Homo sapiens: one gene and its partners. The protein of the gene in region 3 purifies or fractionates together with the protein of the main gene of each other region. This does not show direct contact. Each region holds a gene or a part of one and is shown on either strand. Other genes may lie near its edges. The genes, in order: ASB3, FBXO21 and ZBTB46.

What was found.
Region 1: the proteins of ZBTB46 (region 3) and ASB3 purify together in Homo sapiens (affinity purification with mass spectrometry, with the first as the bait; one large-scale study listed by BioGRID). This does not show direct contact.
Region 2: the proteins of ZBTB46 (region 3) and FBXO21 purify together in Homo sapiens (affinity purification with mass spectrometry, with the first as the bait; one large-scale study listed by BioGRID). This does not show direct contact.

Annotation. Positions count from the first base shown.
Region 1 is NC_000002.12:53,717,365-53,721,015, reverse strand, and holds part of ASB3 (ankyrin repeat and SOCS box protein 3), read left to right. Parts: intron 1-3,651. UniProt on the Homo sapiens protein: Probable substrate-recognition component of a SCF-like ECS (Elongin-Cullin-SOCS-box protein) E3 ubiquitin-protein ligase complex which mediates the ubiquitination and subsequent proteasomal degradation of target proteins. Recognizes TNFRSF1B.
Region 2 is NC_000012.12:117,180,453-117,184,103, forward strand, and holds part of FBXO21 (F-box only protein 21), read right to left. Parts: intron 1-3,651. UniProt on the Homo sapiens protein: Substrate-recognition component of the SCF (SKP1-CUL1-F-box protein)-type E3 ubiquitin ligase complex.
Region 3 is NC_000020.11:63,789,727-63,793,377, reverse strand, and holds part of ZBTB46 (zinc finger and BTB domain-containing protein 46), read left to right. Parts: intron 1-2,587; 5' UTR 2,588-2,620; coding exon 2,621-3,557; intron 3,558-3,651. UniProt on the Homo sapiens protein: Functions as a transcriptional repressor for PRDM1.

The DNA of each region.
Region 1 (3,651 bases), on a different chromosome or scaffold from region 3:
TCCTGAGTACCTGGGATTACAGGCGCGCACCCCTGTGGCCAGCTAATTTTTTTGTATTTTTAGTAGAGATGGGGTTTCATCGTGTTGGCCAATTTGGTCTCAAACTCCTGACCTTCAAGTGATCTGCCCATCTCGGCCTCACAAGTGAATCAGTTTTTTAAATTTATTGAGATGTGCTTTTTGGCCGAGCATGTGGTCTGTCTTGGAGTATGTTATATGTGCTGTTGAGAAGAATATATATTCTGTGGTTGATGAGTGGAGTGTTCTTTAGATGTGTATTAGGTCCAATTGGTCAAATGTTGAATTTACACCCAGAATTTGTTTTTTAATTTTCTGCCTCAGTGATCTGTCTAATGCTGTCAATGGGATTTGACATCTCCCAACATTATTGCTATCTCTATAGATCTCTAAGAGCTTGTTTTATGAAACTGGATGCTTCAATGTTGGGTGTGTGTATATTTAGGATAGTTAAGTCTTCTCATTGAATTGAACCCTTTATCATTATGTAATTACCTTCTTTGTCCTTTTGTACTGTTGTTGGTTTTTTTATATATAATTTTTTCTTGAATAGAAATGGGGTCTCACTGTGTTGCTGTGAACCCCAAATATCTGAGAGAGATCTCAGTCAATTTAGGAAGTTTATTTTGCCAACATTAAGGGCATGTGCCTGTGACACAGCCTCAGGAGGTCCTGGCAACATATGCCCAAAGTGGTTGGGGCACAACTTGGTTTTATACGTTTTATACATGAGACATCAATCAACATATATAAGATATACATTGGTTCTGTCTGGAAAAGCGGGACAACTCAAAGTGGGGAGAGTATGTCCAGGTCATAGGTAGGTAGGAGACAAATGGTTGCCTTTTTTTTTTTTTTTGAGTTTCTGATTAGCCTTTCCAAAGGAGGCACTCAGATATGCACTTATCCCAGTGAGCAGAGGGATGACTTTGAGTTTGAGTTCTGTCTGTCCTTCGTCCACAGGGAAATTCCTTGTGAGGGAGGTACGTAACTTTTTCTAATCTTAGTAGCTATTTTTTAGGAATAGAATAGGAGGCAGGGTTGCGCTAAGCAGTTCCCAGCTTGACTTTTCCCTTTGGCTTAGTGATTGTGGGGGTCCCAAGATTTATTTTCCTTTCACATTGCCCTGGCTGGTCTTGAACTCCTGAGCTCAAGCGATCCTCCCCCCTTGTAAGAGTTAAAGAAAGAGGAAAGAAACACAAAAGATGGGTTGGCAGTTAAAGACAGGTTTACTTTAGATAAAACCTGAGAAGGGTTTCTGGCTGATTTCGATCAGGAGCACTTTCTCTTACAGGCTAAGTACATGAGTATATATTGGTTTTAGGGTGAGGGGGCTTATCACAAGCTTGGAGTGTTTATGTGTGGGGGAGAAGTTTATGGTGAGGTTGGAATGTCTCTGGGTGAAGGGGGGATTATCTTGGGGCTGACGTCTTTCTAGAAGGAAGGGAGTTATCTCGGGGCTGGCATCTTCCCAGCCAGAGCAGGGCAGCTAGCATGTCTCTGGTCGCAGAGGAGTTTGGCATGTTCCTGGTCGGAGATGCTTTTTTTGTTTATGATCATGCTGATCTTAGCCATTTAGGCTGATGCGCTTTGGATTTAGGAAGTTTTTGATTAAGGTGAATTGGAAAATAACAGTGCTTGTGCAAGATGGTGATACTCCTGCTCTGTCATACTTCGGCCTCTCAAAGCTCTGGGCTTATAGGCGTGAGCCACTGTGCCTGGCTCTGTTGTCTGATTTAAAGTCTGTTTTATCTGATATAAGAATATTGACCCCTGGTTGGGCGTGGTGGCTCACGCCTGTAATCCCAGCACTTTGGGAGGCCGAGGTGGGTGGATCACGAGGTCAAGAGATCAAGACCATCCTGGCCAACATGGTGAAACCCCGTCTCTATCTGCTAAAAATACAAAAATCAGCTGGGCGTGGTAGTGCATGCCTGTAGTCCCAGCTACTCGGGAGGCTGAGGCAGGAGAATTGCTTGAACCCAGGAGGCAGAGGTTGCAGTAAGCCGAGATCGCACCATTGCACTCCAGCCTGGCGACACGGCGAGACTCAGTCTCAAAAATAAAATAAAATAAAATAAAAAACTAGTGACCCCTGACCTTTTTTGTTTTCCATTTGGTTGATAAATCTTTTTTCAACCCTTTACTTTGAGCCTATGGGTGTTGTTACATGTGAGACGTGTCTCTTGAAGGCAGCAGATGGATGGGTCTTTTTTCTTTCTTTTTTTTTTTTTAATCCAAATTGCAGCTGTGTGCCTTTTAGGCAGGATGTTTCGTAAAAGGCGAAAGATTTGTATGATCTGAAGAGACCCTTTACATTCAAGGTTAATATTGATATGTGAGGTTTTGATCCTATTATTAAGTTGGTAGATGGTTGCTTTGCAGTTTCTATTGTATGATTGTATTATGGGGTCTTTGGGCTATGTACTTCAGTGTGTTTTTGTGGTATCAGTGTTGTTCTTTCATTTCCATGTTTAAAAGTCCCTTAAGGATCTCTGCTAAGACTGGTCTAGTGGTAACAAATTGTCTTATCGCTTGCTTGTCTGTAAAATATTTTATTTCTCCTTCGTTTGTGAAGCTTAGTTTGGTGGAATATGAAATTCTTGGTTGTAGTGTCCTCTCTTTAAGAATGCTGAAAATAGACCCCCAATCTCTCTTGCCTTGTAAGGTTTCTGCTGAGAAGTCCACTGTTCCTTTTGTATGTGATCTGACGTTTTTCTCTAGCTGCCTGTAAGATTTTTTCTTTAGTGTTAACCTTCAACAGTCTGGTGACTGTATGCCATGGTGATATTCACGTTCACAGAGAGTTCTCTGTATTGCTTCTATCTGGATGTCTTCCTCTCTGGCAAGATTAGGGAAATTTTCTTAAATTATGTCCTCAAATATGTTTTCCAGGTCATTTACTTTTTCTCCTTCTCTCTCAGGAATACCAATAATTCATAGATTTGGTTGCTTTACATTATCAAATATTTCTCAAAGCCTTTTTCATTAAAAATTTTTTATTTTTATTTTTATCTGACTGGGTTAGTTTGAAAGACTGATCTTCAAGCTCCAAAATTCTTCCTTCTGCTTGGCCTAGTCTATTAATAAAACTTGCAGTTATATTTTGAAATTCCTTAAGTGAGTTTTTCAATTCCAGAAGCTCTGATTGATTCCTTTTTAAGATGTTTATCTTAAGATGCCTTCATTTCCTGAATTGCTTTAGAAGTTTCTTTGTGTTTATTTTCAACCTTGTCTGGATCTTGTTGAGCTTCCTTGCAATCCTTGCTTTGAATTCTTTATCTGTCATTTCTGAGTTTCCATTTGGGTCAGGAACCATTGCGGGAACACGACTGTGATCCTTCAGTGGTGTCACTATATTTAGATTTTTCACAAATCCAAAATTCTTGGGGTAGTTCCTTTTCATCTGGAGATGTTCACACTTCTAATTTTTGTAATTATTTTCATGCAGGTGGGATTTTTTTCTTTTTCTTTCTTTCACTATAATATTATTGTTTTTCCCTTTCACATTTATGATTTTAAATATCAACTCAGAAACCTGTTGAAAGAGACCCTTTTTCTCTGATTGTAGGCATTATTTATCATGCAGTGGTTATGAAGAAAGAGATGTAATAGAGAGTATAGTCAATATTA
Region 2 (3,651 bases), on a different chromosome or scaffold from region 3:
CTGACCTTCTTCTATCTTATATCTATGTCTTCTTTATTCCAGGAGAATTCTGCTTCTCCAGGATATCACAGGTGGTAAAATTAGAATATCACATCGTTATTCATTTACTTCATTCCACATCTCTCTCTCATACACACACACCAGCCCTCAGAATAACAAGACTAATGTTTTCATCACTTTTTTTTTTCTTTTGAGACGGAGTCTCGCTCTGTCGCCAGGCTGGAGTGCAGTGGTGCGATCTCAGCTCACTGCAATCTCCGCCTCCCGGGTTCAACCTAGTCTCCTGCCTCAGCCTCCCAAATAGCTGGGATTACAGGCTGCATCACCACACCAAGCTAATTTTTTTTTTTTTATGTATTTTTAGTAGAGACGAGGTTTCACCATGTTGGCCAGGATGGTCTCAGTCTCCTGACCTTGTGATCCGCCTACCTCAGCCTCCCAAAGTGCTGGGATTACTCATCACTTTTATGATTACTGAAAACAGCTAAATATTTTGCATATGTTCTCCCCCACTGTCCATTCATTTTTTAAAACAGATGCATTGTATTTATACTGACATGTCTTACAGACGTTACACATGAAATATTTTCTCCCCTAGAGCCCTCATTTGAATTTAAATCTAAAAATAAATACATGTTTAGTGCTCACTGCCAGTCCTTATATCAGTGTTTCTCTGTTTTGTTTTTTTTGGGGCGGGGAGTGGTTTTTGGTCATTTGAAATTCATTTTCCAGGAGATCTCTCAGGAAGGACTGAAAAGTCACTGAATTCTTGTTAAGTTGTTAAGTTTCTGTGCAGTCTTTGTATCTGGAAGTCAGTTTGGCTGGATATAAAAATCCTTGGTTGACATTTCCTTAGATCATTGAGTATCTTAAGCTATTTTTTCCTTTGGCACAAAAAATTCTGTTGAAAAGTCTGATGATATTCTTATTTTCTTTTCCTTATAAATGACTTTACCTTTTTTGCTTGGATGCTCAAAGGACTTTCCTGTCTTTAAAATCCAGCAATTTTACTAAAGTATGTCTCAGTATTGGTCATTCTGTGACACTTTTCTCAGGTACAATGTATGAATTTATCTATCTATCTATTTATATCTATCTATCTATCTGAGACAGTCTATCGATCGATCGATCTATCTATCTGAGACAGTCTATCTATCTATCTATCTATCTATCTATCTATCTATCTATCTATCTAATCTAGCTATCTATCTATCTGAGACAGAGTCTCACTTTGCCACCCAGGCTGGAGTGCAGCGGCATAATGTCAGCTCACTGCAACCTCCACTTCCCAGGTTCAAGCGATTCTCTTGTTTCAGCCTCTTGAGTAGCTGGGATTACAGGTGCCTGCCACCATGCCCGGCTAATTTTTTGTATTTTCAGTAGAGACGGCGTTTCTCCATGTTGGCCAGGCTGGTCTCGAACTCCTGACCTCAGGTGATCTGCCCACCTCAGCCTCCCAAAGTCATGGGATTACAGGTGTGAGCCACTGTGCCTGGCCCAGTGTATGCCCTTTTAATATGCTGTTTCTAATCTTTATTGTAGGACATACTCGTTTTTAAGACCACATAGCACATCATAAACACAAACTGATTTCAAGCTGATACTTTGGCATTTATGGAAACTACACTTTTTCCTTCCCATGCTTTCCATATCCAAACCATAAGCATTTGCCAGGAATGAAAACAAACAGGGTCTTCCATGAAAACTGGTATCCCAAAATATTTTTAAATGCGGGGTATTCTATCATTTAAAAACAACCTTATTTGTTTGTTGGCTCACACTTATAGTCCTAGTACTTTGGAAGGCCAAGGTGGGAGGATCACTTGAAGTCAAGAGTTCAAGACCAGCCTGGGAAACATAGTGAGACACTGTCTCTACCAAATAAAAATTAGCCAGGCATGATGGTACATGCCTGTATTCCTAGCTACTCAGGAGGCTGAGGCCAGAGGATCCCCTGAACACAGGATTCAAGGTTACAGTGAGCCATGATTGCACCACTGTACTCCAGCCTGGGCAACAGGATGAAACCCTGTCTCAAAAAAACAAACAGGGCTGGGCGTGGTGGCTCACACCTGTAATCCCAGCACATTGGGAGGCCACAGCAAGAGGATCTTTTTTTTTTTTTTTTTTTTTTTGGACCGAGTCTGTCGCCCAGGCTGGAGTGCAGTGGTGCAATCTCAGCTTACTGCAACCTCAGCCTCCCAGGTTCAAGCAATTCTCCTGTCTCAGCCTCCCGAGTAGCCGGGATTACAGGCGTGTGCCACCATGCCCAGCTAATTTTTGTATTTTTAGTAGAGGCAGGGTTTTACCATGTTGGACAGGCTGGTCTTGAACTCCTGACCTCAAGTGATCAACCCGCCTCGGCCTCTCAAAATGCTGTGATTACAGGCGTGAGCCACCATGCCTGGCTGGGAAGATCTCTTGAGGCCAGGAGTTTAGTAACTGCCTGGGCAACAAAGCAAGACTCCATCTATACAAAAAATAGAAAAAATTAGCCAGGTGTGGTGGCAAGTGCCTGTAGTCCTAACTACTCGGGAGGCTGAGGCAGGAGGGTCACTTGAGCCCAGGGGTTTGAGTCTGCAGTGAGCTATGATTGCGTCACAGCATTCCACCCTGGGTGACAAGAGTGAGACTCTGTTTCTAAAACAAACAATCCTTTTTTAAGGTCAAAATATGTGTGTTGGGTAACCTATTCGTATTTATTTCTAAAAACACTATAATATATGTCTTTACTAGCTATGCATTTTCATCTTTTTTGGGAACCTGATATGTAAAATGGCAGTATCTCATTGCTGTTTAACACTTTTTTTTTTTTGAGACGGAGTTTCACTCTTGTCACCCAGGCTGGAATGCAATGGCGCGATCTCGGCTCACTGCAACCTCTGCCTCCCACGCCTCCCAGGTTCAAGCAATTATCCTGCCTCAGCCTCCCCAGTAGCTGGGATTACAGGCACCTGCCACCATGTCTGGCTAATTTTTGTATTTTTTGTAGAGACAGGGTTTCATCATGTTGGCCAGGCTGGTGTCGAACTCCTGACCTCAGATGATCCAAGGACTTGGCCTCCCAAAGTGCTGGGATTACAGGCGTGAGCCACTGCACCCGGCCTATTTAACACTTTTTGAATAGTGTATTAAAAGTTTTCCGTGATTGTTAGATGTTAGGATTTGTTCTTCTGTGAATGTCATCCTCCTAACCTTTGAACATTTTTCAATATCTCTTGAGTTCTACTGACTTCGTTCATGCTCTCTTGGCCATATAGAAGTGTCTGCTCTTTCACTGTCTCCGCATTGTCCTTCTTGGTTAAGGTGGTCTCCCTTAGACTATACAAAGTCTCCTATTTTCTTGAGGAATGTTCACTGTGATCATTTAAAAATTTCAGTTGTTTCATCCTTTGGAAAAATGTTTGCATATGATGCACGTTTTCCTTTCTTCCAGCTGGATATTCAGTTATGTCCAGTACCATTTCTTTAAAAATCCATTTTTTCCCTCTGAGTTTAAATATATTAAATTATCTTTTATTCTGGGATGCATTTGTCAATTATCCTCTGCTACTGATGCAGCTATTTTTATTGAATCACTGTGCTGTTTGGATTATAAGTAGCTTTATAAGATGGCCTAATATCTAGTGATGCCAGTTTCCCATTATGATT
Region 3 (3,651 bases):
AAGCTGTGCCTGGTGGGACACCTGCCCTGCCCTCCTGGGGCTCTGAGATGCTCTCCGGTCAAGAACCACTGGGCGGCCTCAGCACATGACCCCCTCCCCACAGCCTGCTCCGAATGTCATCTCTTCCTTTTCGGCAGCTCCTTGTTCTGCTCGCACCCACACGCGTTTGCCTCCAGCCCTCAAGCCCGGGGCCAGTGTGGGGCGGGATGGGGCCTTTGTTCTCTGCCGCCGTTGAGGCAGCACCTGGAGTCAGGCGGGGGCCTGGTCTTGGCATCTTGGGGGCTTGAGGCCCTTCCTGTAATGGTCAGCGGTCACCGCCGTCACAGCCCTCGTGCCCGGCGGGCAGGAAGTGAAGGGGAGGCTGGGCCCGGTCTTCTGCAGCGCGTCTCCCGGCAGGCAACACCGGCTGTGGGGGCCTGGGAACCCCACACCATCCAAGGAGGGGATGGCCCAGGACCCTGAAGGCAGAGACAGGCACAAAAGCTTCTCTCTCCTTTCTACCTCATCTTCCCGGCCTGTGAAATGTGAGACAGAATAATTACTTTTCTCAGGACATTTTAGGCTGGGCGTGGTGGCTCACGCCTGTAATCCCAGCACTTTGAGAGGCCGAGGCGGGTGGATCATCTGAGGTCAGGAGTTTGAAACCAGCCTGGCCAAAATGGTGAAACCCCATCTCTCCTAAAAATACAAAAATGTCAGCCAGGCGTGGTGGCGGGTGTCTGTAGTCCCAGCTACTCGGGAGGCTGAGGCAGGAGAATGGCATGAACCTGGGAGCGGAGCTTGCAGTGAGCGGAGATCAAACCACTGCACTCCAGCCTGGGGGACAGAGCGAGACTCCGTCTCAAAAAAAAAAAAAGAAGAAAATATTCTGTCATGACTAAGTGAAGGTGTGTATGTCGTAACCAGTCGGAGCCCAGGAGTGTGTGATACAAAACTGCTGAGCCCCCGACCCCGTCCCCCATGAGGGCTGCATGTGGGGGCTCCTTGCCGGAAGGACATGTAATACTCCCACGCTCGCTTAGTTTTCTCCTATTAAACACATTTAGCATTTCAGGTGAGTCCTACTTGACTTATCAGCTGGAGAATGGGGTTTGTAACGGGAGAGACCCAACCACTGTTTCTTTCCCAGGCAGGGCTGTGGGGTGAACGTGTCCCCTTACGATTTGTCTGTGGAAGTTCTAGCCCCCTAGGACCCCAGAATGTGACCTTATTGGAAACAGGGTCACTGTGGATATGATTAATTAAGATGAGGCCGTGGGGGTGGGCCCCTACTCCCGGACGACTGGTGTCCTTGTGAAAGGGTGACATTTGGACACAGACGTGCACACCGGGAGAAGCCGTGTTGAGACAGAGGCAGAGCTCGTGCGATGCCTCCACACAGAACGCCGGCTGGGGGAGGGGCTGGAACAGGCACCAGCTCGGCCGACATCCTGATTCTGGACTTGAGAATACGTTTCTGTTGTTTGAGCCTCCCAGGCTTGATAGGGCGGCCCCAGCAGACGAGAACAGGCGGAGGACTCACATCCCTGAGTCTAAGGAGAGACAGGAGAGACTCCGGGACGGGGTGTACCCAATTCAGAAATGATTCTGTGTGTCCTGTGACTCTGTGAGGCAGGGCTGTCTTCTGATGAGGGGGACCCAGAGACCAGTCGTGTCTCAGACGTCCAGGGCGCTGGCAGCCGCAGGGCCTGAGCTCCCTCCTGCCCTGTCCCAGTGCTGGGCAGGGACCCAGGCCTAAGCCAGGAAGCCTCCCTCCTCCAGAAGACTTCAGCTCGTTTGAGCTCAGAGTTTTGGAAATTTTCAGGACTAAGGCTATGAATGCTTTAATTCCTTATTCTGTGGTTTTTTGTGTAAGAAGTTTTTTTTTTTTTTTTTTTTTTTTGAGATGGAGTCTCGCCCTGTCGCCCAGGCTGGAGTGCACTGGCGCGATCTCGGCTCACTGCAGGCTCCGCCTCCCGGGTTCACGCCATTCTCCTGCCTCAGCCTCCTGAATAGCTGGGACTACAGGCTCCCGCCACCATGCCCAGCTGCTTTTTTTGTATTTTTAGTAGAGACAGGGTTTCACCATGTTGGCCAGGATGGTCTCGATCTCCTGACCTTGTGCTCCACCCTCCTCGGCCTCCCAGATTGCTGGGATTACAGGCATGAGCCACCGCGCCCAGCCTGGAAGTTTTATTCTTTTTCCTTAAGAATGTTTCTTCAAGCGTGAGGGATGGCCACAGTGTAGGTCATTTAACCGAGTTCTCAGTTTGGGTAAGAGTTGCTCAGCCACGGCTGGGTGTTCTCATCGTTCCTGGGATATGCCAGTTGCCGTATGTGGGATTCTGTTCAGAACCCCATTAGCCTCGAGCACGGAAACACGTGGCAGACGTCCCACCCTGGACGCACTGGTGCCCTCCGGTGTTTGCTGCCCTGCTTCAGGCGGAGACACAGGCCTCCCGCTGCACACCTGTGGATGGGCTCTCGCGTGGGTCGTCCTCCCACTGGCCGCACTCTGTGCCCCATGGCCCTCCTGCGCCCCGCCCGGCGTCCTCTCACGGCCTCTGTCTGTGCTGAGCTTGGGTAACTCTTGTTCTTACCTCCACAGAGTCTGTAGAAGAGGCGACACCAGGGCTTCCAAATGAACAACCGAAAGGAAGATATGGAAATCACGTCCCACTACCGGCACCTGCTGCGGGAGCTCAACGAGCAGAGGCAGCACGGCGTCCTGTGCGACGTCTGCGTGGTCGTGGAGGGCAAGGTCTTCAAGGCGCACAAGAACGTCCTGCTGGGCAGCAGCCGCTACTTCAAGACGCTCTACTGCCAGGTGCAGAAGACGTCGGAGCAGGCCACGGTCACGCACCTGGACATCGTCACGGCCCAGGGCTTCAAGGCCATCATCGACTTCATGTACTCAGCGCACCTGGCGCTCACCAGCAGGAACGTCATCGAGGTGATGTCAGCCGCCAGCTTCCTGCAGATGACGGACATCGTGCAAGCCTGCCACGACTTCATCAAGGCGGCGCTGGACATCAGCATCAAGTCGGACGCCTCAGATGAGCTTGCGGAGTTCGAGATCGGCGCCTCGTCCAGCAGCAGCACGGAAGCTCTCATCTCGGCCGTGATGGCTGGGAGGAGCATCTCCCCGTGGCTGGCACGGCGAACGAGTCCTGCCAATTCTTCCGGAGACTCGGCCATCGCCAGCTGTCACGACGGAGGGAGCAGCTACGGGAAAGAGGATCAGGAGCCCAAGGCCGATGGCCCTGATGATGTTTCTTCACAGCCTCTATGGCCTGGAGACGTGGGCTACGGGCCTCTGCGCATCAAGGAAGAGCAGGTTTCACCGTCTCAGTACGGAGGGAGCGAGCTGCCTTCTGCCAAGGACGGTGCAGTACAGAACTCTTTCTCAGAGCAGAGTGCTGGTGATGCCTGGCAGCCCACGGGCCGAAGGAAGAATCGGAAAAACAAAGAGACCGTCCGGCACATCACACAGCAGGTGGAAGATGACAGCCGGGCCAGCTCCCCGGTGCCGTCCTTCCTGCCGACGTCGGGGTGGCCGTTCAGCAGCCGAGACTCAAGTAAGCCTTTCACTCGTTACGGGGGCTCAGCTGCCCCAGTGTGTCCAGGCCTCACGGCCGCGTGCTGTGCGGAGGCAGTGACGCATGTCCAGGC